Linked DNA regions of Homo sapiens. The protein of the gene in region 1 interacts with the protein of each later gene in a biochemical or structural test. Each region holds a gene or a part of one and is shown in the gene's direction. Other genes may lie near its edges.

Region 1 (5,964 bases):
TGGTCTTGAACCCCTGAGCTCAGGTGATCCACCTGCCTCAGCCTCCCAAAGTGCTGGGATTACAGGTGTGAGCTACCACTACTGCGCCCAGCCCAAGGCCTCATTCTTTTTCTTTTCCTTCTTCTTTTTTTTTTTTTTTTTTTTTTTTTTGAGACAGGGTCTTGCTCTGTCCCCGAGGCTGGAGTGCAGTGGTGCAATCATAGCTCACTGCAGCCTCAACCTCCAGGGCTCGAGCTATCCTCCCGCCTCGGCCTCCCAAGTAGCTGGGACTACAGGTGTGCACCACCACGCCCAGCTAATTTTTGTACTTTTTGTAGGGATGGGGTTTCGCCATGTTGCCCAGTCCCGTCTCAAACTCTGGGGCTCAAGTGATCCACCTGCCTCAGCTTCCCAAAGTGCTGGGACTATAGGCACAAGCCACCATACCCAGCTAATTTTCGTATTTTTTGTAGACACAGGGTTTCGCCATGTTGCCCGGGCTGATCTCAAACTCCTGAGCTCACGAGATCCACCCACCTCAGCTTCCCAAAGTGCCGGGATTACAGGCATGAGCCACCACGCCCGGCATCCTTTTCACGGCTGAGTCCTATTCCAGTGTGTGGCTAGACCACGCTGTGTTTATCTCTTCATCTTTTGAAGGGACATTTGGGTGGCTTTCCAGTTTGAGCTGTGGTGAACAGTGCTGCTAGGAACATTCGTGGACTTTTGCTGACCTATTAATCTTGGCTGCTGTCTGTCGCTCACACTGGACTTTGAGTCTCACAGGGGCAACTGCTTCAGCCTGTATCATCTCCTGCTGTGCCGGGGCCCAGCTCAGAATCAGACACTGTGGATGCTTAGTAAACGCCTGTTGAGTCCATGAATCCCTCCTACAAGGGCGTCCGAGGGCAGGACAGGGCTGTCCCCAAGCTGTCTGAGGTTGGCCAAGGCTCCCGACCTCTCGGGGACAACTTCGATTTCCAAATCTGTGAAATGGGTCCAAACCACTCCAGTCGAGAGGACAGTCTCCCTTCCTTTAATATTAGGTAGGAGCAATGCTGGGGACACTGAGGGTTTTAACTGCGGCTTGTGGGCCTCCCATTCAACCCCCCATTTTAACTGACCCATTGCTGGGTGCCAAGCTCTGGTCTAGGCACGAAGGACACTGCAGGGTCGGGGCAGACAGACATCCCTGCCCACACGGACCTCCCAGTCTGAAGGGGAGAAGAACAAGAAGCCAGAGTATCTCGAAGGGTGACAGTGTGTAAAGCAAGCCAGCTGCCCCTCCCAGGCAGTTGGATACAGATCTCACGACAACCCCGATGATGGGATTGATGGTTTCACTTTTGCAATTAGGGAAACTTGGAGGCTGAGAGAGGGAAAGTGACCTGCCCCAGATCACACACCGAGGCAGGTGATGGAGCCGATGTGAGCCCAGGCCTCCGCTTTCCGCTCTTTTTTTTTTTTTTTTTTGAGATGGAGTCTTGCTCTGTTGCCCAGGCTGGATGGAGTGCAGTGGCGCAATCTCGGCTCACTGCAAGCTCCACCTCTCGGGTTCACACCATTCTCCTGCCTCAGCCTCCCAGGTAGCTGGGACTACAGGCGCCTGCCACCACGCCCGGCTAATTTTTGTATTTTTAGGAGACAGGGTTTCACTGTGTTAGCCAGGATGGTCTCCATCTCCTGACCTGTGATCCTCCCGCCTCGGCCTCCCAAAGTGCTGGGATTACAGACGTGAGCCACCGCACCCGGCTCCACTCGTTTTTTAAGAGAGGGTGTCGCCCTGTTTCCCAGGCTGGAGTGCAGTGGCACAACAATGGTTCATTGCGGCCTCCACCTCCCAGGCTCAAGTGATCCTCCAGCCTCAGCCTCCTGAGTAGCTGGGACTACAGGCACGGACCACAACACCTGGCTAATTTTAACACTTTTTGTAGAGATGGGGTCTCGCTGTGTTCCCCAGGCTGGTCTTGAAGTCCTGAGCTCAAGCGTTCCTCCTGCCTCGGCCTCCCACAGTGCTGGGATTACAGGCATGAGCCACTGCGCCCGGCCTGCTGTTCACTTGAATGCAGCATTCCACAGCATGGGGGAACCCGGATGAAGGCTGTGTGAAGGCCCACACTGGACAAGGACCCCCCACGGGGCCTTCCCCATCAGACTGGAGCTGTCATTCCCCCACAGCACAGGATGGACAGGGGGAACGTCCAGGCTCGGGCCAGCCCCCAGGAGTCCAGGCAGCCCTGGAGTGTGGGGAAGGGAAACAGGCCCAGCTCAGCCTACTGACCCCGCTGTCTTCCTGTTCCAGACACGACCGACTTCCAGGAGAGCTTTGTCACCTCCGGCGTGTTCAGCGTCACTGAGCTCATCCAAGTGTCCCGGAGTGAGTGTTCCCGTCAGCCCTGAGCTGGGTCTTGGAGAGGGGAGGGGGCCGCAGGGAGGAAGGAGCCCACCCCCCTCACCCTACTCCTTGTCCTTTCCAGACAACCCCCTGTGTCACTAAGCCAAGGTTCCTAGAAAGGGAGGTGGCCAGGCCCTTCCCAGAGCCCAAGGTCAGGGCTCCCTCCCACCTCTCCAGGAAACAGAATCTAAATGCTGGATGGCAACTAAGGAAACTTCTGCCCCAGCATCCCTCCTCCTCCCTGGGGCCTCCACTGTCCTGTCCCAGGAGACCCCAAAGGACCCCGCCCCTCCTGTCCCCTTGCTTTCTCTGCTGACCTGCTGGGGACCCAGCACATTCCGTCACACACTGTCTGAATCCCACCCCAGCGAGTCCTGGGCGCTGTCCTTCTTTAGCCCTGACTGACACCTTCCCTGTCCAGATCAGCAGAGCCTGGCCTCCAGCTTTGGCTACACCTCTGCCTCACAGTGTGCTCTTGGCCTCTCCCCATGGCCTTGGTCCTCTGATCCATAGAATAAAACTGGTTTCAGCCACCCTAGGAACCGGGCCAATATGGGAAGGGGGTCCCCCTTTGGACTGCACCCAGTGGCTTTCCCTACCTCTCTAAAGCAAACCGCAGCACTGGGCACTGCTTCCTGCCTCACTCTCCTCTGTCACCCTCTGCAGCACCCGTGGTGACTGGAACAGGACCCAACTTCTCCCTGGGGGAGCTGCAGGGGCACCTGGCATACGACCTGAACCCAGCCAGCACTGGCCTCAGAAGAACGCTGCCCAGCACCTCCTCCAGTGGGTAAGTACCCAGGTCCCCACCTCTGGGCATTTCATGACCCCATTCATCAACCCATCCCCTCTGGCCCGAGCTGACTCATTCCTCTCCCTGGAATACCTCTTTTCACGATTCACCTGGCCTGAGAAACTCCTACTCATCTCATCCTTCAAAACCCAGCCAGCCCCACGTGCCTCTTCCCCTAGCCCTGACAGCCCACCGTGGGCTCCCCCAGCCTCAAGTCCTGCCGGCTCAGCCAGCCCTTAGGACCCTCCCCACCCAGAAGAATGCAGACACAGGTTGTTGCTGAGATATGCTTTGTGACCTCGAGCAGGTCACACTGTGTGTGCCCCAGTTTCCCCATCCATAAAATGGGATCATACCCCTAACAGGCAGTTCTGAGGACTACAGGTGGCCAGGAGATTAGCCAGGCTGCCTGGGTTTTGGTCTCCACCATGCTAGCTTGGTGTCCGACCTGTGTTGAGACCCTCCCTGCCTCTGGCCCGGGTGTCCCATCCAAGCAATGGACAGGTTGGAACAGGCGTTCGTAGGGAACGGGCTGAACGCCCGCGGCTCCCGCGATGTCTCGCGATACTACCTCCCTCGCCCCCGCTCACTTAAGGACCGGAAGTAGCAAAGCCCGCCGTCGCGCCCCCCGCCCCGCGTCTCCCTGGTAACCAGCCTCTCCCCTTCCCTCGCCCATAAGGAGCAAGCGGCACAAATCGGGCTCGATGGAGGAAGACGTGGACACGAGCCCTGGCGGCGATTACTACACTTCGCCCAGCTCGCCCACGAGTAGCAGCCGCAACTGGACGGAGGACATGGAAGGAGGTAGGGCTGGTGGCGGGGGCGGAGCCGGCCTTCCGGTCTGAGTCACCGTGGCGGGAACTACGTCTTCCGGCAGCCACTGCGCGGGCGCCGCGGGGCAGGAAGCCGGCCTGGAGCCGCGGGGCCTCCTGGGAATTGTAGTCGTCCCGAGCTGCGCTTGGCTGGAAGTACGGTCCGGGTTCGCGTTCTCGGATCTCTTTGGTTCCGCTGCGGCGAAGGAGGGCAGAGACTGTCCCCTGCCTGACTCTCCTGCCCTCCGGCCGTGAATGCCACATCTCTGTGGGGTCCCCGAGCTGCAGGATGGACTCAGTAGTGACTCTGATCAACAGGGCGCCTCTTCCTGGGATCTGTCATAGAATCCCTCGTCTGTAGGGACCCTGTTTGTCCTCTTCCCCTCTAGAAGGTCCTGAGATGCCGGATCCCTTCTCATTGGGGTCCTTCTTGAGGTTACTTTTTTTTTTAACCAGGTTCCCATCTCCATGGGATCTTCTGGTTCTGCAGGAGACTCGTCTCCTTTCTGTAGGGTCTCCATTCCCATGGCGTCGTTTTCTAGGAAGATTTTATCCTCTTGCTTTTCTGTCTTCAGAAGGGTCCTCTCTGGGGTGTCTTTCTTTCTTTCTTTCTTTCTTTCTTTTTTTTGAGATGGAGTTTCGCTCTTGTTGCCCAGGCTGGAGTGCAATGGCGCGATCTCCGCTCACTGCAGCCTCCACCTCCCTGGTTCAAGCAATTGTCCTACCTCAGCCTCCCAAGTAACTGGGATTACAGGCATGCACCACCATGCCCGGCTAATTTTTTCTATTTTTAGTACAGACGGGGTTTCACCATGTTGGTCAGGCTGGTCTCAAACTCCCGACCTCAGGTGATTCGCCCGCCTCGGCCTCCCAAAGTTCTGGGATTACAGGCGTGAGCCACCACGCCCGGCCTCTGTTTTTGTTTGTTTGTTTGTTTGTTTGTTTTTGAAACGGAGTCTCGGTCTGCTGCCCAGGCTGGAGTGCCGGGGTGCAATCTTGGCTCACTGCAGCCTCGACCTCCCAGGTTCAAGTGATCCTCCTGCCTCAGCCTCCCAAGTATCGGACTGCAGGTGCATACTGCCATGCGCCGTTAATTTTTTTTTTTTTTTTTTTTTTTTTTTTGGTAGAGATGGGGTCTCACTATGTTGCCTAAGCTGGTCTTGAACTCCTGAGTTCAAGTGTGATCTTTCCTCCTGCCTCGTCCTCCCAAAGTGCTGGGATTCCAGGTGTGAGCCACCATGCCGGGCCCCTCTTATTTTTTTTTAATTTTTGTTTTTTGAGATGGAGTCTTGCTCTGTCACCCAGGCTGGAGTGCAGTGGCGAGATCTTGGCTCACTGCAACCCTTCCTCCTGAGTTCAAGCAATTCTCCTGCCTCAGCCTCCCAAGTAGCTGGGATTACAGGCACCCACCACCACACCCGGCTAATCTTTATATTTTTAGTAGAGACAGTGTTTCACCATGTTGGCCAGTCTGGTCTCAAACTCCTGACCTCAGGTGATCCACCCACCTCGGCCTCCCAAAGTGCTGGGATGACAGGTGTGAGCCACTGCTCCCGGCCACCTGTAGGATTTTTAGAAGCAGTATAACATTAGGATTAAGAGGTCAGATTCAGGCATTGGAGAGACCTGGGTTCAGATCCCAGCCCTGCCCGTGTCTAGCTCTGTGTGCTGTGTAACCTGGGGCACATCACTTAACTTCTCTAAGCCTCAGTTTCTTCATCTCCACAATGGGGGTGATGTGAATAATGTTCTTTGGGAGCTACAGGAGGAGGAAGGGTAGGATGTGCGTGAAGCAACCGTCTGGCCCATGCGACATACCCGGGAAACGGGAGGTCACTGTCATCCACGTCTTTATAACATTCCTGTCTCTGACCAGGCTCGGTGGCTCACGCCTGTAATCCCAGCACTTTGGGAGGCCGAGGCAGGCGGATCACGAGGTCAGGAGATCGAGACCATCCCGGCTAACACAGTGAAACCCCGTCTCT
Region 2 (5,964 bases), on another chromosome or scaffold:
GATGAAGACACATAATGTTCATTTTATTGCTTATGTTGCTGTAAGGTGTAAGAACAAGAAAAGGCAGATGTGCAAATGATCACTTGCTAGTTACAAACCCATTTTAGGAAGATGTTGCCATATATTTGCACTTATTTTGTCAATAAAAGACAATTACGGGTAATAACACATTTCATAAATTTTAAGTTGTATTAGCATGATAAAATATACCCACAGTAATCAGCATTAACACATCAAAGTTTTTGTTGCTGTCATTACCTAAATTCAATCATGCTTGTATGTGAAATATTTTCTACTTTTCATTAAATCAAAGAGCATGTTATTAATGAAAAATATTGAGAAACTTCACCAACAGGTATGCTATGTTTTGAATGTGCTGCTATAGAGGTCTTCAAGTTTGGGCAATTTTGTTTGATTCCTGTGTCTCCAAATTTAAAAATAAAGAAAAGATGAGGAATGAATACAAAGCAAGAAAAGAAAAGCAGTGCTTTTGTTGATAATACAGTCTCTACAAGTCCCCAAAGTATTTTTAAAGTTTTGGATACTATCAAAATACATCTACTTATTTTGTGATAATACCCAGTGAAAACCTACTGTCAGAGTTCTACTGGTTCTCCTTATTTTCTCTTTGCCTAAACTCAAGTATCTTGGAAGCAATTTAATCTGCTGAAGCCATTCTAAGGGGTCACATAAGGCTGGAGGAGTGAATGCAGCTTCCAAAGCTATCGTTGTTAACTCTTGAATTGTGTTTTATCATCTGTGAATCTTACTGATTGAAATGTGACTGTCCATGGGACTCTTTGGATAACTTTAAATATTAGGGGGAAAATTCAAAGGAAATTATTATTTTTCTCATCTTAAACATGTGACTGTAGACTCCTTAAGAAACTAGAGGAATGTAACTGTTCATTTGTTCTTTTCCATACCAGTTTTACATATATTTTGGGGGGCAGACCTGTCATTGCTGTATCAGCATATGTCATGCATTTGTCAGCATATAATTTCAAAGAAAAGCCAATTATATTACAGGGAAATACCTATATTGTTTTTAACCTCAAAATTTGGTCAGTGTTTTTATTTTTGTAACCTCGGAGAGAGAAAGAGAACATAAGGTACTATATGTTCAGACAGTCTTTAAGTAGCAAAGATATATCCTCCCCTATAATCATCCATTCTGCCAAATTGATTTGTGCTTCTTTACCTATTTAATGTTTCTACACTACTGGTATGCCTGTTGATTTAATCTGACTATCCTCTTTCCGAATTGCATCAAAAATCACATATCGGAGTTTATTTTGAGCTGTTGAAAGTAAATGGTGAAACAGTCCATTGAAAGAAAGAGAAAACAGATTAGAAATTGGTTAAAAATACAAATATAACATTTGCCACCACAAGGCTTATCAGAAAAACTTCATAAACAAGCATCTGTCTTAAGAACTGGAAGTACCATTATCAGAAGTACTTTTTCTTTTCAGATATCTTAATAGACTGAAAAATAGGAATGCAAGGAAAAGAGCTGACAAAAGTTTTAACGCTAACACGAAGTGATGTTTCCTGTTTTCAGGAAGTGCTGGAGTCTCAGAGTCAAGAATTTATAGGGAATCCCGAGGGCGTGGTAGCAATGAACCCCACATAAAGCGTCCAATGAATGCCTTCATGGTGTGGGCTAAAGATGAACGGAGAAAGATCCTTCAAGCCTTTCCTGACATGCACAACTCCAACATCAGCAAGATATTGGGTAAGAAAACCATTAAGAACTAAGTGACGTATGGAATAAAGGTACTGTTCTGTTTTCTGCAGTTGTGGAAGGATCCTGGATTTGGAGGCCATACAGGTCGTGTTATTTGCTTATCCAGAAAATAAACATCATCATTGAGGCTTCTTCTGGTGATGAAGCATTCTATGTCCATTGAGAAATATGCCATATTTCTATAGCTCATGTAGCTGTTTGTCTTCATACTAATTATTTTAATGCTTTATCTTCTTCAAAAATCTAGAAATATTTTTACTAAAGCTGAGAAAAAAGTTGCTTTCACATGAGCCACTAGATATTGCTACTGATCATTTGTATTCATTTCCTTGCATACTATAGACAACTTACTGTTAATCTTAAGGCCTCCTTCCTCTCTCATCATCCTCTGTAACAGAAGGATAAGGAGTTTTATTTGCGGAATTCATCTTGTTGTGGGGGTGAGGGTGGAGGTGGGGAAGATGTTTGTTCCAGTGCTATAATTGAAAATCAGTTTTAGATTTTCAGAACACAAGAAGATGTAGAGTGTACATTTTTACATTTATACTTTTAGTAACCTTAAGTACTAAAGGTACTTTTAGTCATACTAAATACTTTTCTGCCATTGCAACATTCAATTGAACAGAAAACAAAGTACGCATTTACTCTACCCACACAGAGACTGTAGCACACAGGAAAAATGGTTGGGGAGAAAGGGTGCTGATTATAAAGATACCTATTATAGACCAGTTCAGGTCCCAGGGGGAAAAAGAAAAAAAGAAGATTCCATTGCTTTTGTGCCTTATCTGACATCATTATCACTGTCATTGTCATTCATCACTGTCTGATGGCCAGATACTAGACAACCTAAGAAAATTTTGATGATTCACTCTGTGACTTCTAAGAGTTAAGTGACAAAAATAGAATAGAAACATTTTATCAGAAAATGTTGGTTTTAACAAATAAGTAACAAAATTTGTCAAAATTATTAAAGTTTTATTAGAATTCGTAAGGCACTTGGAATTACACGGAGTTTATAAAAATAGTATCACTTTTGATTCATTACAGATCATCTATAAATGGCAAACATATGCATGAGGTTTTGTTTTGCAGATGGAGTCTCGCTTTACCGCCCAGGCTGGAGTGCAGTGGTGTGATCTCGGCTCACTGCAACCTCCGCCTCCCGGGTTCAAGCAATTCTTCTGCCTCAGCCTCCTGAGTAGCTCGGATGACAGGCGCGGGACACCATGCCCAACTAACTTTTGTATTTTCGCAGAGAGAGGGTTTCACCATTTTGGCCAGGCTGGCCTCGAAGTTCTGACCTCAGGTGATCCGCCCACCTTGGCCTCCCAAAGTGCTGGGATTACAGGCATGAGCCACCACGCCCGGCCGTATGTTTTTATGATCCCATATTCTCAACAAAGATAATAGATGCCACCTAGTCCACAAGGTGCATTTGTAATGGGATCAAAACAAACCATTAGCCACTTAAAATTGTGTCTCATTTTTCACCTAAATGTTATCTAAAAAGACATGAACATGCAAAGCTTTCAGTAGTATACATAGAAAATATGAAAATCTGTGTGTAAAAATATATATCATGCATAATCAAAAACTTGAACTGATCAAGAGGAAATACACATTTTTTTACATCTCTACCAGCTCTGATCTATTTTTCCCTTTTGTGACTATATTTTTTGTGACTATATTCTACCTTCCATGTGAAATTTCCTATCTTTAAAAAACAACATACCAGTTTCATTTGGGAAAACTCTAGAAAAGAATACTTTATGTAAGCATATTTCATGTTTTAATATATCAGTTATTCCCAAATTAGAAATCCAAAATTGTCAGAATAAAAACCAAGTTAAATACTAAGATTTCAAAACTGTCTTTATATTATTCAATTCTTGTGTCTGAATACCAAAAAGGTGATAATCATTAATTAAAACTATCTTAACTATAAGAGAAATATCAGTTTTGATGATAAGAAATGATATTTTAGGAAATGTAGCAAAAGTATCTATGGAAAAGAGATGACTGGCTATGAGAATTCCCTTCTGATTTGAGGGAAAGAATATTAGAATGACCATATGATTATATTATAATAGACAACATGAAAGAGAATACTGCCTAATTTCAGTCTTTCTGATGAAAATGTATTCTTTAAAGATATAACATTTATATTTAGGAACAAATAAAACATTGAGGTATTTTGGGCTCAATATTTAGTCACAGCTTTAAATAAATAAGTGATCTTCAAATATCCACAAGATCATTCTAAATGACCCATTTCATACAAAAGTACAAAGAAAGCTTGATGTTTTCCTCTTTGCTGATTGTTTTGGATAACAGCCTCCGACAGCATGCCGCTAATTCATTCTGCTTAAAACAGGCGCTTGAGCTGGGTTGACATTTTACGTAGTCTCTGGGGATCGTAGTTGACATTTTAAAGGGCTTCTAAGCATTTTATAATACCCTAAAATCTGGTTTTAATAAGCCATTCTGCTGAAATTGTTAACATAAGGAATCACCTTTTACTGCTTGGCGCTAGATCAGGGGAAGAGGGACATCTTTTTCTGATTAGATATACAGTAGTTTAGTTGGAGTAAAATGTGCAAATTCACTACAGACCCCACGGAGATGACAATGTTGCCCAGCGCAAACTCTTCACTTTCAGTGTATTGCCAGATTTAGAAAGGAAAGGAATAATCGTTGGACCTTATTTTTTCCCCTATTTTGAGCATCAAATACTTTTGATTGAAACTTCCTCTTTTGTCATCAGGAGGAAAACCCAATTGTCCTTCTCTGCTTTTTATTATTATTATTATTATTATTATTATTATTATTATTATTATACTTTAAGTTTTAGGGTACATGTCCACCATGTGCAGGTTAGTTACATATGTATACATGTGCCATGCTGGTGTGCTGTACCCATTAACTCGTCATTTAGCGTTAGGTATATCTCCTAATGCTATCCCTCCTTCTCTGCTTTTTTATTCTAAAACGACAACCTTTTGAAAGCAGCAGGGAATGAATAAACTCCCTGTACATCAGTCCAGAGTAAGCAGCCAGCCACCCCCAAATCAAGTAGATATTTTTTCTCTCTTTTTTTTTTTTTATTGTTGTTTATCCAAAATATTTTCCTGCCATTCTCATCAAGTATGTTTCAGGGGTTAGTTAACACCTCAGCTGCATACAATGGTTATAGTACCTGCAAAGCCATTGAAATCAAAACCAAACTTGTCAGTTGGTTAAGCTAATTCAAGGTTACTATTTTGAAAATGAAAACTGGATTTACCACCAAATGGAAACACTGCCCTGTACTGTCATAAAATATAGTAGTCAGTCAGCCATTTGACCCGGTTAGTACTTAGCCTATCTTTATTCTTAGTTTTGAAAAGACTTGGAATTATTATATGGCCATATTTTAAAGTGTAATTTAGGATTCAGTGATACTCTCAAAGAAATTATACTATCAAGAGTTAAACTATTTTATAATTCCCGTTCATGCCAGATTTGGAAGCCAACTTATCTGAGAATTTACACATCTTTTATTATCCCATTTCTTTACATACACGCATCTTTTTTTCCTCTTTTTTTTTTTTTTTAAGCCAGACCAGCTTTCTTTAAGTTAGTCTAACTCCTCTTTCCACCGAAAGACCTCAACTATTATATTCTTCCTCAATAGGATGCTCTTCTCTTTGTGAGCCCCACGGGAGTCATTTCTACAGCAAAGCCTTCCTGACCTGCAGAGGATTGATCTTGCCTCATCATATTCTCTTACCTTCCTGTACTTTCTACAACTATAAGGAAAATAATAAATTTTGTAATTAGATATTTAATGTATATTCCCTGACTGAATATAAGCTGCAAAGAGACAGGAACTATAACTTTCTGTATTCACTCACTACTATATATTTATTAAGGAATGAATGCAACATTATGTACATAGTAGGAAATATACAAACAAACAGCTCTCGCATTCCAAGGCAGATTACTTCTAAGCATAAACATTTTCTTTCCTTTGAGAGGCCAAAGCCTTTTGGCGTATAGATCATTTAAACTTAGGGAAGAATCTTTGGCAATTCCCCTTCTAATTGAAAATGCTTGGCCAGGAGTGGTGGCTCACACCTGTAATCCCGGCACTTTGGGAGGCCGAACCGGGCAGATCACGAGATCAGGAGATTGACACCATCCTGGCTAACACGGTGAAACCCCATCTCCACTAA
Region 3 (5,964 bases), on another chromosome or scaffold:
ACTCCAGCTCCTGGCTCCTGCCTGCAGGGGTGTCCCACGCCCAGTCTCTGCTCTTTGTCCAGCCTCTGCCCTTTCTCCCTGCTTCCAGCCCCAAATCCTTCTGTCAGAGAAAGGGAACCTGTGAGGCAGAGAGTTAGACAGACAGACAGGGCTGTCTGCAGTTCAGGGCTGGGTATTCCCTGCCAGGCTTCTCCCGCCGGCGTCCTGGAAATGAATCCAAGTGTTTGTGGTAATTAAGACTCCAAGATTACGAGCATCCAGCCTTGGGATCTTGAGACAATCACAGCCTGCAGCCGGAGCCTTTAAAATGACCAGTGTCTATTCATCCCTCCAAACAGACTGGCCTTTCTAAAGGCTGCTCCTTCCCCAGGGGCCGCCGCTTGTCCTGGCTCCCTCACCCTCCCTGCCAACTCCCACAAAGCTCACCTCCCAGGAGTCTGGTCTTGCTAGCCAGCTCCACACAAATTTCTGGCCTGTAGGCACTGGGATCCGGGCTTGCAGAACAAATGCCAACCACCAGCCAGCAACTGGCAGGGAGTAGAGGAGCTGGACAAGGAGGGAGTGCCAAGCAGGGAGGGAGAACTCCAGACTTTGAGACTGAACCTTGGGTGATACCCTCAACCACCTAAGGTGCCTGTCTCCAGGCTGAAGTCTTTGCACTGATGACAGGCTCACACACGTGAGGACAGCACAGGGCTGAGTCAGCTTGACGTGTAGGATATTTAGGTCTCCTGGTCTCCAAACCCCTCCAGTGTGCTCTCGGGGAGAACACATGTGCACACTCCATGCATGTCCACCCTAGCCAGTGTGCCAATATGCCTATCTGTGGTAGCTACAGAACATACAAGCAGCACTGGGCTCAGGAACCCAGGCTGGTTTCAAGATCACAGAACTGTACAAACTGACAGTTGTTCACAGAGTCCCTGCACAAGTCACACACCAGCCTTGGCCCCCCATTTTGAGACACCCCAAAATGAAAAGAGGGCTAAGCAGTTCATACCTTTGTTATTTTTTGCATTCTTCATAAGCTCATTATCAGGGCAACTAATAATTCACATGGTGCCTTATTCTGAAATTGGCATCACATATAAAGGATTTTTTAAATATTTTGCAAATGATATGGAATTATCCCAAATCATCCTGAAAACAGCAGGTAAAATTAGCTGGTAGAATGTACCTTGGCTAAAGAAGATTCCCTCTGCCACACTCGTGCTGTAATGTACTGCGAGGCGACCCCAGAAATTATCCCAGTGTGTGCCATCTGTATTAAAATGGTTATTCAGTTATGAACAGGGTAACATAATACTGATCAGCTAATTATACACCCTCCGAAAACCCTCCAGCTCCCTCGGCCTGGCTCAGCCAGGTATTGAAAGCATAGCGATTTGACATTCAGATACCTTCCAAAGGAGCTGGAGAAAGACGCTGGGTGGTTTGGGAGAGGAATAAGCCCTTTGCTTTAAAAGCCAGGAGAGGAGGCTGGGGCAGCTTTGGGCTGAGGCAAGAGTGGCACTTCGGGAGGGGAAGGGGACAAAGCATTGTTTTATGAGCCATGTAGAGACTCAGTCTCTTGGCTGATTGCTGGTCCTGGGCATGAGTTGGAACTGAGATCTCAAGAGAAGAACAGCCAAGGGCCAAGAGTGGCCCTGCTGTGTGCAGTGTTGCTGGGACTGGGTAGTGGTCTTCTGCAGAACATTTAAGAGAAATGCTTGTTGTCAGTAACAGAATTTTCAAGCCTTTGGAGAAACCCAAGTCATGTAGGATTTAGGTAATTTGTTTCTCTTGAATGGGGTAGAGGAGTGGCGCAACAAGTCAGGTGTGGTGGCCCCGTCCAACACCCCCTGCCCCTCCCCTCAACAACATGCACTCCTCATTGGCTGAGATGATTTTGGAAGCTGGCTTAGGCATAAGTTTGGAAATACTTCTATCCTGAAAAGCCATGGAGAACAAGGGCCAGGTGACCCTAGGATCAAGCTCCAGAGGTCTTGAGGTGCACCCACCAGAATTAGGACAAAGTAGACAAGTGAGCCACAAGTGAGATGAGGGTGGGGAAAGAGTAGCCTCAGCTTGACAGCTGTGACAGCTGCAGAACCTGCCCAGCACAGAGCCCTATCACCTGAGGGGCACACAGGCTTCCTTTGGGTGTGGAGAAATAGCCATCTGTGGGCAGATGTTGCTGGAGATGGAGAGGGAGTAGGAGGAGAGGAACAGGTAAGCCACCAACAACACGGGCAGCCTACCCTGGGTCCGTAGTTAGGCTTCATGGCTGGCTTTGTCTACAAGGAGCAGGAAAACTATTCCCAATTTTGCTTTTGTCCAGAATCCTCTCATGGTTCATATTTTGGAAAGAATTCTGGGGGCTTCCCTGTGTGCTGCTGAGTTGGGGCTGGAGAAATCCACCTGGGGAACCACGCTCTCATCTTCATCCCTGTAGGTGCTTTTTGCTCTGAAGAGGGAAGGTTTATCTGAGATGTATTGTTTCACCCAAAAGCCTGATAAAAACAGGATGTTTCTGCTAGTGCTGGTTATATCAGAAACTTTGCCTTTTATCAGTTCTGGGAATTCTCACTCACTGTAGGAAGAGCCCGGAGATTTTCCTGTGTGCACAAAGTGTGGTGCACCGGGGAACGGGTGGTTCTTGAGTTTAGAGCTTTGTTGGTAGTGACCTGCCCACTTGTGTTGGGTACTTTATAACAGTTATGAGTAAGGTTGTGCATGAGCTGGTGGTTGGCAAGAAAAGAAGTCCACACATGCTCACCCACCTGAGCTAGTGGTTTTTCATCTTCTCCTTCCCAAAACAGATGCTGTCGCCACACTTGAAATATGCTGTTATGGTTATAAACTAAATTGCTTTTTTCACTCTTTAAAAATGGTTTTGGCATTCTCTGATTCTGTTGTGATAAAGGCCTGGCCATCCAGCCTGTATTCTCCACTAGCAAATCCTCAGAAATGCCTCTCTGAACCAGAGGACTGGGTCAGGAAGGCCTCCCCACTGCCACAAACCACGTTCAAAAATCCCAAGGCTTGACTGGGCTCCTTAGCATGTGGAATTTATCTGAATCTTTCTAAACATTGGGTTACCAATGGCTGAGCATGGAGTTGCCAGCTTTTTGGTTTGTACACCGCTGCTGTAAAGGGCAGGTGTTTATAAACAGGGGACTTTAGATTGAAACCTGGTGTGGGACATGGCCTGGAGAGGGGAGAGGTGGAGGGAGATCCATGCTACTGAAAAAGGAAAAAGTCGTCTAGTTACATAGCTGAGCAATTGTCTAAGCAGGAGGGATTTTCCTGATTATATGCCAAAATCTTCTGGTTTGGCTGTTACTCTGGGCAGAGAATACACCTCCTTTGAAAGAACAGGCACAGACCCCAAATAGAGTCTGGGGTTACTGACAATCCCCCGAGGGTGCTCTTTTGGGAAGAGCTGACAATAAGGGTGTCACCTTCTAACTTTTTTAGCTTGCCTAACACTCTTTGGAGTCAGGGCACTCTCTGCCCCTAGATCTTTGGAGTGGACCCTGGCAGAATCAACTTCTCACGGATCTCCCACTATCCACACTCTCTCTTAGCCTGTTAGGCTCTAGGTGAGTACATTCATTCTCCTAGCAGTGGCAACCCAGGGCTGTGTTAAGGAATTCCATCCTGTATCATTTGGGTGTCCCTCTTCTGTCATTCTCAGGTCTTTGAGTCATTCTCAGGTCATTGTTCCCCTTGGGTCAGGCAGTGGGGTGACAATGGTCTACTAGTTGTTCGTTCAAAGACCTTTCCAAATAAGCTGGGAGCTATTAATCCTAGCCCCGTGAATGTTGAAGATATGTTCCGGGCTAGGGTCTGTTTCTCCCTCTCTGAAACTCAGGTTCCAGAACATTGCCTATTCTACTCTTGGACCTGGCTTGGCATGAAGCTTGGCCAGAGGGGTGGTACTGCCTACCACATCTCCATATCTTTGTAGCTGTTTGGTGGTCAGGGCTGTTGGTCTCATGGCAAAGAGACAGGGCAAGTTGGAGAGTTCAGAAAAAGACTTCTATCCACAGAGGAATGGCAGAAACAAGGACAGGGAACTCACCTTCTGTGGCCTGAGCCTAGCAGATTGGGCCCACAAATAGCAGACCAACATGCCAATTTCTGTCAGAGAAGCCTCGCTCACCTGTCCTTTCCCAGAGACAGTCCCCTACTGTGAGGTTACCCATCATTGGAATAACATTTGAAACAGGCATGATGGTTGAAATTCTCATTCCTTAAAATGAGCTGGAGTTGTCCTCCTGAAAAGCCTCTTTTTGTTTTTGTAGTTGTTTTAGCCTGGGCTTCCTGGCCCACAGTCCTGTTGGTCTGACTGTCTCCCTGTTGGCTGGTTCTGTGGGTGTTCAGGCTACAAAAGGGGTTTCTGGTGAGAGCAATTGCTGCTTGCCCTGCCTTCCTACCTCAGCTGGCAACTCTCGAGAAGAGGCAGACAGGAGGCACTGGGCCTGACAACAGCTCCAGGTGCATTTCAGAAGGTGACGCAAAGAAGAAAAGAGAGGGAAAACCCAAAATGAATAAATAAATAGTGTCCCAACTGTTCTGAGAACTCAATAAAACAATCACATCAAATATGAAGAGGCATAAATCTTGTGTCTGCACAGGTAACCTACTCAATTGCTTTTATTATCGCTCAGGCTGCCTCCATTTATTACCGTTCATGGCCTGGGCAAAGGAGGCTGCGTGGAGGGTGGTCTCCAGTGCAATCCTACACCCTGAGAGGCAACAATCAGCCCATACAGCCAGAGATTTCGATGGGAGCCCAGGAAGGGCCCATCTGTCTGCATGAAAACCAATCAATAACTCTGTAACCAGAGCCCTTGTCACAGGGAAATGGACAACACAACAGTTCAATAGAGGGGCCACAGGGGGAATTAGCCAAGTGGAGATGGGGCCAAACAGGAGCAGCCCCTAGAGAAGGGAAACAGGGGTGCCTGGAGTAGGGGAGATTAGGGAAGGGGTGGAGATGTGGCAGGGGAGAGCAATAGCTTCATATGCATGTTGGTATTAGATGGGGAGTATTGTGCAAAATAGACCCAGGGAATGACAGGCAATGTTGGAAGTTGAGGTGGTAGGGAACATGTGTTTTGGACAGCATTTGGGAAATGGGCTTGTTCTGGTGCACATGGGAGAGTGTGACTATGCATGATGGCATGTGCTTGCGGACTAGAATGTTACAGCTTCTACAGAAAGAGGAACAATAGTAGTAACTGGTGTGGAAGATTAATCACACTCCATACCCCCTAAAACCCCTCTGAAAAGGGGGTTCCTATGAGCCCACATGGGATAGGGGTCCTGCTTCCCAGTCTTCTTAGCAGGACTGATGAAAGAGCCCCATTGTCCGCTCCCAGCTTCTTAGGTGTCCAACAATAGCTACTCTGCAGGTTGCCTCTTAATACTCAAGTCTATCTTCACCCCCTCCTTGTGTCTACCTGGAATTGGAGTTTTTATATTAAGAAGAGAACAATGGTGTAAAAGTGACAAGCATCCAGTAGAAATCATACTTCAAGTACCCAAACAACCATTCTGTTTCTCACTTTCAATACAGTATTCAATAAATTGCATGAGATATCCAACACTTTGGTATAAAATAGTCTTTGTGTTAGATGACTTTGGCCAACTGTAAATGTTTTGAGCATGTTTAAGGTAGGCTAGGCTGACCTATGATGTTCCATAGATTAGCTGTATTCAATGCATTTTCAGCTTACAATATTTTCAACTTATCGAGCCATTACCCTGTTGTGAGTTAAGGAGCATCTGTACACTGAAAATAATTTATTTTTCACTTCCTGTCCTTTAAAAGAATGCTCATCCGACCTGCCAGTTCTCTGCATCCCTGCTGTTTCTTCTCACACTTCCCCCGCCCCTCCAAGCCAGGTGTCCAGAGCTCAGATTCTTGCAGGGGAAGCAGCTTCAGGTGCAGCTATCCCCAGTGCAGCTCCCCAG
Region 4 (5,964 bases), on another chromosome or scaffold:
CTAGATTTCCCAGACTGCCAAGGATGACTGGGTGCCCTCCTCTGTGTCCTTTGATAGATAAGATGCCTGTATCACTACTCCATGTCTCTATGATCTTTGCTAGTAGCTTCCCTCACCCGACCCAGACCCTTCCTCCTCCTCTCCCCCGACCGAGGGCAGGGACCATGGCTCTTTCTCCTCTGAAGTCTCAGAGCCTTCAGCTCTCAGCCTGGGGCCAGAGTCACCATCCATGCCTGTTTGTGGAGTAAACAAGTGAACATCCCAGTAAGTGAACACCTGGACCTCCATCCAGGTCCCCTAAGCTGAGCTTCTAGAGACAAGCCTCCCCTGGTAGTCTGTGTTGCCAGCACTGACAGTGAGTTCCTATTTGCGGAACCTGGCCAGGCAGGGAAGGAGGGGATGCTCACAGACCTCAGGAGCTGGTAGAATCAAAGGAAGGGGCCTGAGAGGCTCTTTGAAAGCATTGGCTGTGGGCTTCAGTGTCGAAGGGGCAGGAACCTCAGAGTCCGGAGGAGTGGCAGGCAGAGCAAGCCACACACAGTGACAGCAGACAGATCAAGAGTCCTGCTGTAATGTTTGTGTTAGAAGATGGGGCCATCCCAGTCTGATGGGGGAGGCACAGTTCTCTGAGCTTGGAGAACTCCCTGACTGATGGGAGAGGCCTCATTAGCCAGTTCGTTCATTCATGCATTCATTCATGCATTTATTCATTCAATAGACAGGCCCAGAGTGACCCTTAGGGCCAGACCCTGGAGCTAGAGAGGCGAGTAAGGCCCTGCTGAGTTCTCAGTGGAAGGAGGATCCCTGGGTCAGGACCCTCCTTCAAGAGAAACACCGAAGACCAGCAGCCATCCCATGCATGAGGGCACGCAAATCAGGTAAACTGAGGACCTCGAAGCTACAGAGACTTCAAGGGAACAACTCTGGCAAAGAGTGTTCCAGGGCCAGCCTGGCATTGTGCCCAGTGTGCTCGTGTCTCTGGGGTCTGTCCGGTGAGCCTGGCACTAATGGCCTTTTCCCCACAGGTGATGAGCATCTTGGGCAACCCCAGTGCGGTGCCCCCGCAGCCACAGGCTGACTTCTCCATCTCCCCGCTGCATGGCGGCCTGGACTCGGCCACCTCCATCTCAGCCAGCTGCAGCCAGCGGGCCGACTCCATCAAGCCAGGAGACAGCCTGCCCACCTCCCAGGCCTACTGCCCACCCACCTACAGCACCACCGGCTACAGCGTGGACCCCGTGGCCGGCTATCAGTACGGCCAGTACGGCCAGAGTGAGTGCCTGGTGCCCTGGGCGTCCCCCGTCCCCATTCCTTCTCCCACCCCCAGGGCCTCCTGCTTGTTTATGGAGAGCTACAAGGTGGTGTCAGGGTGGGGAATGTCCATTTCACAGATGGAAAAATTGAAGTCCAGCCAGATGGAACAGTTCACCTAAAATGACACTGAGTTGGGCAAAACCCAGGACATCTCCTGGCTAAGCCTCTGCTTCCGTACTATGGCTCCAACAGAAATAAAATACACAACACAAATATCACTTAACATTTCTAGTGGCCACATTTTAAAACATAAGAAGAAACAGGCCAGGCGTGGTGGCTCATGCCTGTAATCCCAGCACTTTGGAAGGCTGAGGCAAACGAATCACTTGAGCCCAGGAGTTCAAGACCAGCCTGGTCAACATGGTGAAACTCTGTCTCTACTAAAAATACAAAAATTAGCCAGGCATGGTGGCGCACACCTGTAATCCCAGCTACTCAAGTAGGTGAGGCACAAGAATCACTTGAACCCGGGAAGCGGAGGTTGCAGTGAGCCGAGATCACGCCACTGTACTCCAGCCTGTGTGACAGAGCAAGACTCTGTCTCAAAAAAAAAAAAAAAAAATCAAGGAGAAGAAACAATGGAATTATTTTTACTAACATTTTATTTAACCCAGTACATCCAAAAGATTATCATTTCAAAATGCAATTCATATATAATTATTGAGATATTTTACATTCTCTTCTTTATGCTATGTCTTTGACATCATGTGTGTGTTTTACACTTACAGCCCATTTTAATTCGGACACTGAGTTTTCAACAGAAATACTTGATCTGTATTTAAATTTCATATAGTTTGCAACTGAGAAAATATACTTACAAACCCAAAGTGTTCCAAATTGTAAGTTTTCCAACTACTAAATAACCCAATTGAAGATTGGTTTTTGACTTTAAATTAGTTCAAGTGAAATCGGCATTTGAAATTCTGTTTCCCAGTCGCACTAGCCACATTTCAAGTGCTCAGCAGCCATGTGCTGCTGGTGGCCACTGTGCTGGACAGCTCAGTGGGAGACCCTGCCCCTTCTGCCGCAGGGCATGGGAAAGCTGTGTTTCCAACTCTCTCCTCCACTCCAAACTCTGCAATGGTCTCATGCACCCATCCCAGCTGCTATCCCCTTTGTGCCTTGCCTTGAGGCAGGGACCGTGGATCCTCACACCAAAGGCTGGAAAACGCAGGCCTGGACACAGCCTCCACCGCCTGGCAAGGCCAGCAGCAGGGCAGGTCCAGATGGGACAGGGAGCCAGAGGTCATGGGTCACTTTCCTGCCCCACCGCCCTGCAAAGGCCTCACCTGCTGGTGTCAAACTAATCAGAAGGGCGTGTGGCAAGAGGGTGAGGCCCCCATCCCTGAGGGTGTCCTCTCCCCCAGCCCAGCCCTGGGCCAGCCTTTCTGACCTCTGCTTCCTGCCCACCCCCCCAAACCCACTCCTCTTCACGTGTCGTTGGCCTCCACTGCCAAATGAGGGCCACTGCCAAATGAGGGCCAGCTATGTCGGCCTCCACCTCCCAGCTGTGTTCACAACCCTTCCTGTGCATGTACATGTTTGCATATGTGTATGTACACATGTGTGTATGGGTGTTTGTGAGTACGTATGTTGGGACATGTTACAATTCTTGTGTGTGTGTGCATGTGATGCTTCTATTTCAGCACCCATGTGTTATTGCATGCATCTTTGCATATGCGCGAATACATGTATGTGTCAGTGGGCACATGTGAGCATATGTGTATATGACTTCACATGCGTGCACATAAATGAGCATATTGTGCATACATGATGTGCACATCTGTGTGTGTGAACACACATGTGCACACATATATGTAAGTATATGTATCTGCTTAAACATGTTTAAATGTGCATTCAAGTCTGTACATATGGTTGAGCGTGTCTTTATGTGTGCCTCCATGTTTGGCATAGGTATGCATATGTCAATATGTAGATAGGTATAATGAATATGTATGCGTGTGTATAGATGTATATGAGTGTGCAAACATGTGACTGTATGTACATGTGTATAGCCATGCATTGAGGCATGCACACATGCTTGAGTGTGTCTGTGATTGTGTGTTTGGAAGTACCTGTGTGTGGACACATATTCTGTGTGCAGTGTGTAAATAGGGGTGAGTGTATGAGTGTATGTTTGAGTATGTCATAGGTGTGGCTGTGTGTACATGTGTATGGATGTACATCTGGGTGTAGACATACACTGTGTCTGTGTGTATAACTGTGTGTGTGTGTGTGTGAATGTGTACGTGGGGGTCTGCATGTATATTTGAGAGCAGGGTGCACGCATGTGCATGGGAGAATTTCCAGAGGGTCCCAGGGTGACCTCCTGACCCAGCCCGTGTTCCTGGGCATGCAGCAGGACACACATGCTCTTGATAAATATTTTAGAGTGACCCCAGCGGCAGCGGCAGCCCCGGCCTGGGGCAGGCGTTAGTCACACCCAAGCTCGGTGCCCTGCTCCAGGGGCGCCTGCTCAATTCGGAAATAAAATTAACCCCAAAGTCAGCATGGGGGCAGCAGGGGAGGGGATCAAAAGGGAAGGGGCCTAGGAGGCGAGAAAGGAGGGTTTGTTCTCCTCTTGCTTGGACAAAGCCAGCCAGAGCAGCTTCCTCCTCCCCCACCACCCCCTACTCCATTCTTCTCTTTTCCATCCTCTCTTTCCACTCCCTTCTCCTCCTGTCACTCCCCTTCCAGCTCCACCCCTGCTGCCCTGGCTTCTCCAGGAATAGCTCAGAGCTCCTCTTGGCCACATTCTCCAGCCCTCCCCAAAGGGAGCCCAGCACAGACCCCAACTCACCCCACAGAGACTCTGGGCCCAAGCTGGGAGGGAAGGGCTGGAGGAAAAGCCCCCTCCTCTGCCCCCAATTAGTGCAGGCAGCCACACACTTGCCTCTCTGAGCCTCAGTCTTCCCATCTGTGAAATGGAGGCCACGAATTAGACTTAGCCGTCTCAAAGTGTTTCCATTGCACCACCTCCCTCTCCTTTGGCATTTTGGAGGCCCTGAGACACATCATGTTCCCGCTAACCACTTGCCCCACATCCCTGGGCAACTTAATCCATCTGTGGCTGGGATGCCCCAGTGTGTGTGCAAGAGTCCCATGTCCTGGACTGTGCCCGCCTATGCCCAGGTCCATCTGTCCTCCCTTAACACCTGCCCTCTGCCCAAGTTCATCCCACAGGGCACTGGGCAAAATGCATGCTCCTCATTCATGTCATTCTCTAAGTTATTTGTCCCCAGGTTGCAGGTGCAAAAACGAGGCTCAGAGAGGCGAGGTAGCTTTTCCAAAATCCCACAGCATGGCAATGGTGGACCCAAAGTCTTCTAACTTCAAACCACAGATTTGTGGAGGCCACTGAGCAGCGATACACACCTGAGCCCACCCATGCGTGGATTCATGTCCACAGCTTCACATGCATGTGCATATGGATAGACACACACGCAGAGAGAGGGGTTTATATGTGAGTGTTCACTAATGTGTGTACACAGCTTTAAGATATAAATATACAAAATGTGCATGTGTAAAGGAAGGAGGAACGACCATTTATTGAGCATCTACTATGGGTCTAGCATTTCATCCTTATGCCACCCTATGCAGTACACGTGGTTATTCCCATTGGACAGATGAGGAAATGGGATCCCAGAGAGGCTGTTTATGCAAGGTCACCCGGCAGCCCATACTGATGTGTACACAGCCACACCTGCAGCCTGGTTCCTGGAGAGCCACCTTCAGGTGTGCATGGAACAAGCCTACACATGGGCCAAACTCTTAGGCCCCAGAGTACTCCTCCTCTTCTCCGTGGGCTTCTCATCTTGCCAGGGACACCTTCACTCCTTTTCCTGCTCTGGCCATTGTCCATCCACCTGTCCGTCTTTCCTCGTCTCTAGGGGAGTGGGGGCAGGGGCCCAGGGATGGGGCACATGGCAGATTAATACGGCCCTGGTGTTCCCAGAGGCCAGGGCTGTACTAATAATGGGGCTGATAGAACGCTGAAGTGTGAAAAGAATTTTAATAGATCTGACAAGTCTAATAAGAATTTGTGTCTAGAAGGGTCCTCCTCTGGGGCTGCGGGCTGACGAGGCGCTGACGGCTGAGATTGTTTACCGGTTGGCATCACCACCACATCTCCTGCCAACTCCCAATTAATCTAATTTGAGACATTTAGAGCCCAGCCACGGGCGCGAGGCAGAAGAGGGGAGATGCGGAGAGACAGAGGGACAGGGAGGGCCGTTGACGGAGGCCATAATAAGAGATGTCACAACCCTGCCCTCGCCGGCCCCTCGGCTCCACCCCTGGGAGAGGCAGGCTGTGCAGCCTGTTGGGTGCCCTTGAAGTTGGCAGGGTCATCAGGAAAGTTTGGCTTCCTGGTGTTTCCTTGGCTACCTAGACAGGGCCTGGCAAGCTCCTACTGTGTGCTGGGCCCATGGGCTGGTCGCTGGGAGAGGCTGACAAGGATAAGGCACGCAGAGTGGCCAGAGGCACAAGCAGGACCAATGCAGACTCCTCCTCCATGTCACGCACTGCATGTGACTCTGGGCCAGCGACCTCTCCGTACCTCAGTTTCCTCATTTATAGAAGGAGAACGCTGATACCTAAAGCATGGGGCAGTTGAAAGAAATAGATGTGGTCATGCCTGCCAGCACACAG
Region 5 (5,964 bases), on another chromosome or scaffold:
GGAAAGGACAGGGAGGACTGGAAGGAAGAGAGGTAAGCACCAGAGCCATTTAGGCCAGGAGCCCGGCCTGGGCCCGTGGCTGGCGAGGGCTGCGCAGGCAGGCCTGGGTTCTGAACCGCCCAGAAATGGAAATGGGCCTTTTGGGGTGGGGGGAAGCGCGCCGCATGTCCTGGCAGCCCCCTCCGCGTTCAGGGTAGCCAAGGCCACAGAGGGAGTTGTGGGTGCCGGTTTCCCGGCGGCGGAGGGGCCGCTGGCTGACGCAGGCGCTGCTGTCTTCCGCCTCCCTCCCTTCGCAGACCATGCCGTCCATCAGCAGTGACCGCGCCGCGCTGTGCGCCGGCTGCGGGGGCAAGATCTCGGACCGCTACTACCTGCTGGCGGTGGACAAGCAGTGGCACATGCGCTGCCTCAAGTGCTGCGAGTGCAAGCTCAACCTGGAGTCGGAGCTCACCTGTTTCAGCAAGGACGGTAGCATCTACTGCAAGGAAGACTACTACAGGTAGCCCCCCCACCCAACTGCCCCTCAGGACCCCTCCCCCCAATCTCAGGCACAGTCTTACAGTTTGGCCCTCTCCTTTCCGTTTAGTCCCAGGAGAGGGTTCACTACTCAGGACTCCCCCGCTCCCCCCCCAAGTTCTCCAAGCCACCACAAGTTGGGTGATAACCTTTTAAAGCAGCAATTTGGGGAGCTCTTGGAAAGGTCTACGAAGTAGGAGAACCAGAAAAAAAGCAGAAGCTGCCCTCCTGCTCGGAGCTTAGACCACAAAAAAGCTTGAGTTGGGATCCTTGCTCCCCTCTCTCTTTGAAGTTTCTTGAGTTAATCCGAGGTTATAGAAACAGGCACCCCCAAACCTAGGCAGCCCAAGCTGGAGTGAAACACAGCTGGAAAGAGAGCTGTGGGAGTGGGTGCATTTCCAGGTCTTTTGAGAAAATGGGAATGAAAGGTGGCCAAGATCAAAGAACCAGAATCACTAGTAGACTCCAAGTTCTCTGTTTCTCCTTCTCCCCAGTTTTAGGATTAGGGTCTATGTATATTCTCTCTGTCTCTGTCTCTACGTCTGTGTCTCTCTCTCTTTCCCTGTCTCTGTGTTTCTTCCAAATTATAAAAGTCAGTAGGATTCCCAGGCGCTGGTTTGGAGGGAGGAGTAAAGGTTGAGGAGGGGGTAAGTGGTAAGTGTCTCCCTCCACTCCCAGGTAAAGGCTTTCCTAGGGCTTGCGGAGACTCTGGGTGAAGTAGAAGTCTCTGTAGGCATAAGTGTGTTAAGGGAAACTATTTTAGGACAGGACCAGGCCTGGGTCAAAATCTAGTTCTCTCTCCCCCCCATCCTCCAAATAAAGGCCGGGTTGTTCGTCTTGAGGAGGGGATTGCCCCCCGCAGCAGCAGCGGCACCTGGAGGAGGAAAAGGGGGGTACCCAACCGTGTGTTCCCACAGCCCCTCCCTCCATGGTCCCTACAGGCGCTTCTCTGTGCAGCGCTGCGCCCGCTGCCACCTGGGCATCTCGGCCTCGGAGATGGTGATGCGCGCTCGGGACTTGGTTTATCACCTCAACTGCTTCACGTGCACCACGTGTAACAAGATGCTGACCACGGGCGACCACTTCGGCATGAAGGACAGCCTGGTCTACTGCCGCTTGCACTTCGAGGCGCTGCTGCAGGGCGAGTACCCCGCACACTTCAACCATGCCGACGTGGCAGCGGCGGCCGCTGCAGCCGCGGCGGCCAAGAGCGCGGGGCTGGGCGCAGCAGGGGCCAACCCTCTGGGTCTTCCCTACTACAATGGCGTGGGCACTGTGCAGAAGGGGCGGCCGAGGAAACGTAAGAGCCCGGGCCCCGGTGCGGATCTGGCGGCCTACAACGCTGGTGAGTGCGCGGCGCACGAAGCGCCCCCATAGGGTTGGGGGAAAGTGTGCGGCCTCGACGGCCGGGAGCTGGATTGAATCTCTGTGTGCTGGGCAAATAGCGAGCCTTAAGCACCGGACGGCCTCGCAGAAGGGACATTAGCCCCCTGGGCTTCCAGACTGTGCGTCCTCGGCTGGAGCGGGAGGAGAGGGTGCAGTGGTCCCTTGCTGCTCCGGGTGCAGGGCCTTGTCTCTGATAAATTGTTTTTTTGGAGATGGCTTTTTGGTTTGGGCCTTTGCCCCACTTTGCTAGGCAGGAAGTGGCAGGGATGGAGAAAGCAAGGCGGCGCTGACGCCAAACAGGTTTTGGGTTGGCGCGGCTGAGGGCCGGGAACTGGGGCAGCGAAGGAACGAGGCAGGGCGGCGAGGGTCCCAAGAGAAAGGGCTGGCTGTGGCCCGGGGCGCCGAGCTCGGCCTGGAGTGCGGCCTGACCTCGTGAAATGTCCCAAGGGCGGCAGGCTTGGGGAACTCGGGCTTGGGGAACTCAGGAAAGCAAAGGCTGCGGTTCCTTTTGCTCGGCCCGATCCTCCTTTAAAGACAGGTCTCAGTTTTCCCGGACTTTTTCCTCCGAGTTTCCTGGCGCCTGCTGGGGTGAGGGCCGTGACCCTCGGAAGCGAGCCCCCCGGGCGGGGACGAGACCGGAGCAGGCCTGGCCTCGCGCCGGGGTGGGGTGGGGTGGGGTGAGGTGGGGGGCTTGGTTCGGATTTCCGGCATCTTTGAACCCCAGGCCATTCCCGGAGAAGCTCTGCCCCCTCCCGCGCCCCTCCCTGCTCAGGACAGCTGCAGAGGTTCTGAGTTCCGGCAAATGAGCCGTCAACATCTGCCCGAAGTCTGCAAGGCCCGGAAAGGTTTATGACTCTCCGGGCTTCCGAACTAGAGTTTATGTGCAATTATTTTCTTTCTTTCGTTTGCAACAGAATTAGATTTGGAGATTTTGTGTTCTTCTTCCTTTTCCCTTTAGTCTAATGCACAAGCAGAAAAAAGCAAAAACAAAAACAAACCCAAGACTGTGCAGAGGGTGCTACGGCGGGAAGAAGTCAGTTATTTTCATCTTAAAGAATCTGAGTTGAATAGAGAGGGAAATGAGGGGCGGGTGTTCGCTCCAACGAAATCGCTTGGAGGATCATGGGGCGTGTGTCCCTGTGTGCGGAACTGGGAGGAAAACGCAGCCCCCAGTTTGGTAAATGGTGAAGCAGCGGTAGGCCGGTCGGTGGCGCGGATTTAAGATTTGCTGAAGGCACTACCACAGATGTAGCTCTCTGGAACTTCCATCCCTCCTCTCCTACCACCCCCCAAAAAAAGACAAAACCGAGTTCAGACCGGCTCCCCCAACACCAAGCCGCTTCTATTTATCAAGTGGGTCAACTTCCACTCGGAAGCACCTCGCGGGGCTCGGCTCCAGGGCACCTGGTGGCTGGGGAGCTGTATTGTTTTCCTGGGCACGGAGGTTCGGCGCCGGTTTTAGGATTGTGCAAAAAGAGAGTAGAAGGTACAGAGATTTATTTCTGCTTTTTGCTGTTCAGCCGCCGTTTGCCCCAGCGAGGTGGGCTGGAGGCTGAATTTCAAGCCTTGTTTAACCTCTACAAGAGACACCCTCCATTCAGCCATCTCACTTTCTCTCTGGCCTCCCTCTCTCTTTTTTTCCTTTCCGTTCTCTCCGTCCTTTCTCTCTATCTCTGTCTCTGTGTGTGTCGTGTTTGTTCCCGTGCCCTCCTCTCCGACCTTGGCCGGGGCTCCTAGTCCTGAGAGAAACGGCGTTCGGTGCGCCGGCGGTGGCTATGCGGCTGGCTCTTTCGGGGCTCCCGGGACTAGGTTGGGGAAAGAGGGCATCTCCCCGGCCTCTCGGGGCCCAGCCCAGTCTTCCTAGATCTGGCGTCCGCCCTTCCCTCCCCTCCCGCACTGGCAGGAGAGAAATGGCCGCAGTGTGGGCCGCGGGGCAGCTAGGACTGGAAAGCGGGGACCCTGGAGGGTGCGATCGCGGACGGGGTGTGCGGGCGCGGGTCGTGTGCGTGTGCGTGCAGGGTTCCGACCACGGGGACACGAGCTTGTTTGTGGCAGTGTCCCACATCCTGTGGCCCAGCCACGACGACCCCTTGCAAAGCCTCTTGCTCTGGGGACAGTCCCTCCGAGGCGCGGCGGCACCTTACTGAAGGGCGGCGAGCTGGGGGCCGAGTGGGGAGGGGGCGCCGTCGGGGCGCCGGGCGCTGGGCTTACAGCAGAGCCGCGGGCCGCGGGGTCGGAAAGTCCTTCCGGGGCGGGGCCGCAGCGGCCTCTTCCCGCAGCCCCTCGGGCCCGGGCCCCGGTGGAACGGAAACCTCCCCCTACCCCGGGAGGGGCTGCCAGCGGGCTGGGGGTGCGAAAACGGCGGCAGGAGCGGGCGAGGGGCCCGGGCCGCGCACTTTGCGCCTGGGTTTGCGCGCCGCGGCCGCGGGAGTCCCGCGCGGACCGGCCGGACGCCCGGCCTCCCCCAGCCCCAGCTTTTTGTGTGTGTGTGCCTGGCGGCGTAATTACTGATTTGATTCCAATCCATTATTTAGACAATTGAACCTACAATCTCGTCTTTAGTAAAATGAGGCGAAGTCAGATTTGATTACAGGTTCAGTCCCAGCGACAAGAGCTCGAAACCCGATGGGTTAATAACAGATCACGAGTAAATTATTCATGATTTTACGAGCTCTTTAGCTCCATTGAATCGGCCTAATTGAGAGGAAAAAAAAAAAAAAGGAGAGAGAAAGCCCGGGTCCTCCCCCTCCCCTCGGCCCCTCGCTCCTCCCCGGATCCGATCCTGGGGAATCTCGACCCGCCCCCGGGCACTGGGGGCGGGAGTGAGGGGGTTCGGGGCGCCGGCCAAACCTGGGCCCCACGGCTGCCTCCCCCGCCGCCGCCCCCTGCCCTTGCCTCTGGCCGGCCTCGGCCTCGCTACTTAGGGCCGGCTCCTTTCCCTTTTTCTCCACTCCCCTTCTTTCCCCTTTTCTCTACTCCCCCGCCAATAACGGCTTCGGAAAAGGCCTCCCCCGCAGGGACCGGGTCTCCCGGAGCCCCGGGATTCAGCTCGGCCACCGGACCCTCGCCACAAGCTGCGCCTGTTTCCGGGACTCGCTTTCCCCTCCGCTCTCCCTATTTCTTGCTGTCTTTGTAGCTGTCTCTCTGTGGTTCTCCTGGCTCCTTCGCTTTCTTTTCCTCTGTCTGTCCTCTCTTTTTCCTGGCTCTGTCCATCTTCCGTCCCTACCCCCTCTCTCTTTCTCTCCCTCCATTCTGCCTTTCTGTGTTTGTCTTTTTCTCTCCTTTCTCTGCCCTTTCTGTCCCCCTCCCCCGCACTACTACCCCACCTAGGCGGCACTCAGGGCAGGTCCCTTGGGCCCATGGGGGCGCCGGGGTCCCCACGGAGCTCATTAACAGCAGCCAGGCCCAGGCGGGGGCTCGGTGGAGGGATGGGCCCAAAGATACCCCGTAGGGAGGCTGCCCCACCCCCAGTGGAGCTGGGGACTGGGGGAAAGAAAAGGGTTGCTCACCTCAGCGGGTTCCAAGCAGTTCTGGTGGATCAGGTTCAGAGGCATCCTCTGATCCCCTTTAAATTGCCGGACCCGCGCTCTTCACTCTGGGCGTGCTCTCTGTGGGAATGCAGCCCCGGGGGTGAGGGGACCTGAGTGCCGGTGGAAAGAGGCCCCTAGGAGGTGTAGCCCCTAGCTAACAGCTCCAAAGGCAGGGGCAAGACTTGTATCTTGCAAATTCTCTCTGCAAGGGGCTCTTCCCCATCTGGGCAGGGGAAGGGGGAGGTCACCAGCAGAGTAAAAGTCCTTTGGAGGTAGTGTGGCCAGGCAAAATGCAGCATCCCCAGTTAAATTGGAATTTTGGGTACGTAACAAATACATTTTTAGTGTAAGTGTCCCCGGCAATATTTGCATTTTGGAAAAATAACGAATAAATTTGAAATTTGTAGTATAAGTGTCCCGTGTAATATTTGAATTTTAGATAAATGACAATTTTTTAGCATAGCTGTGTCACCTGTAGTATTTGAATTTCAGGTAAACAACAAATACATTTTTAGTATAGGTATGTCCCATG

Evidence for each region.
Region 2: the proteins of NFIC (region 1) and SOX5 form a complex in vitro, tested with the Homo sapiens proteins (one study listed by BioGRID).
Region 3: the proteins of NFIC (region 1) and PAX2 form a complex in vitro, tested with the Homo sapiens proteins (one study listed by BioGRID).
Region 4: the proteins of NFIC (region 1) and PAX7 form a complex in vitro, tested with the Homo sapiens proteins (one study listed by BioGRID).
Region 5: the proteins of NFIC (region 1) and LHX2 form a complex in vitro, tested with the Homo sapiens proteins (one study listed by BioGRID).

What each region holds. Positions count from the first base shown.
Region 1 is NC_000019.10:3,431,237-3,437,200, forward strand, and holds part of NFIC (nuclear factor 1 C-type), read left to right. Parts: intron 1-2,281; coding exon 2,282-2,356; intron 2,357-3,040; coding exon 3,041-3,164; intron 3,165-3,846; coding exon 3,847-3,971; intron 3,972-5,964.
Region 2 is NC_000012.12:23,538,985-23,544,948, reverse strand, and holds part of SOX5 (transcription factor SOX-5), read left to right. Parts: intron 1-1,564; coding exon 1,565-1,738; intron 1,739-5,964.
Region 3 is NC_000010.11:100,750,923-100,756,886, forward strand, and holds part of PAX2 (paired box protein Pax-2), read left to right. Parts: intron 1-5,964. UniProt on the Homo sapiens protein: Transcription factor that may have a role in kidney cell differentiation. Has a critical role in the development of the urogenital tract, the eyes, and the CNS.
Region 4 is NC_000001.11:18,734,607-18,740,570, forward strand, and holds part of PAX7 (paired box protein Pax-7), read left to right. Parts: intron 1-1,025; coding exon 1,026-1,272; coding exon of another isoform or gene 1,273-1,433; exon of another isoform or gene 1,434-1,532; intron 1,533-5,964. UniProt on the Homo sapiens protein: Transcription factor that is involved in the regulation of muscle stem cells proliferation, playing a role in myogenesis and muscle regeneration.
Region 5 is NC_000009.12:124,013,665-124,019,628, forward strand, and holds part of LHX2 (LIM/homeobox protein Lhx2), read left to right. Parts: intron 1-296; coding exon 297-499; intron 500-1,457; coding exon 1,458-1,861; intron 1,862-5,964. UniProt on the Homo sapiens protein: Acts as a transcriptional activator. Stimulates the promoter of the alpha-glycoprotein gene. Transcriptional regulatory protein involved in the control of cell differentiation in developing lymphoid and neural cell types.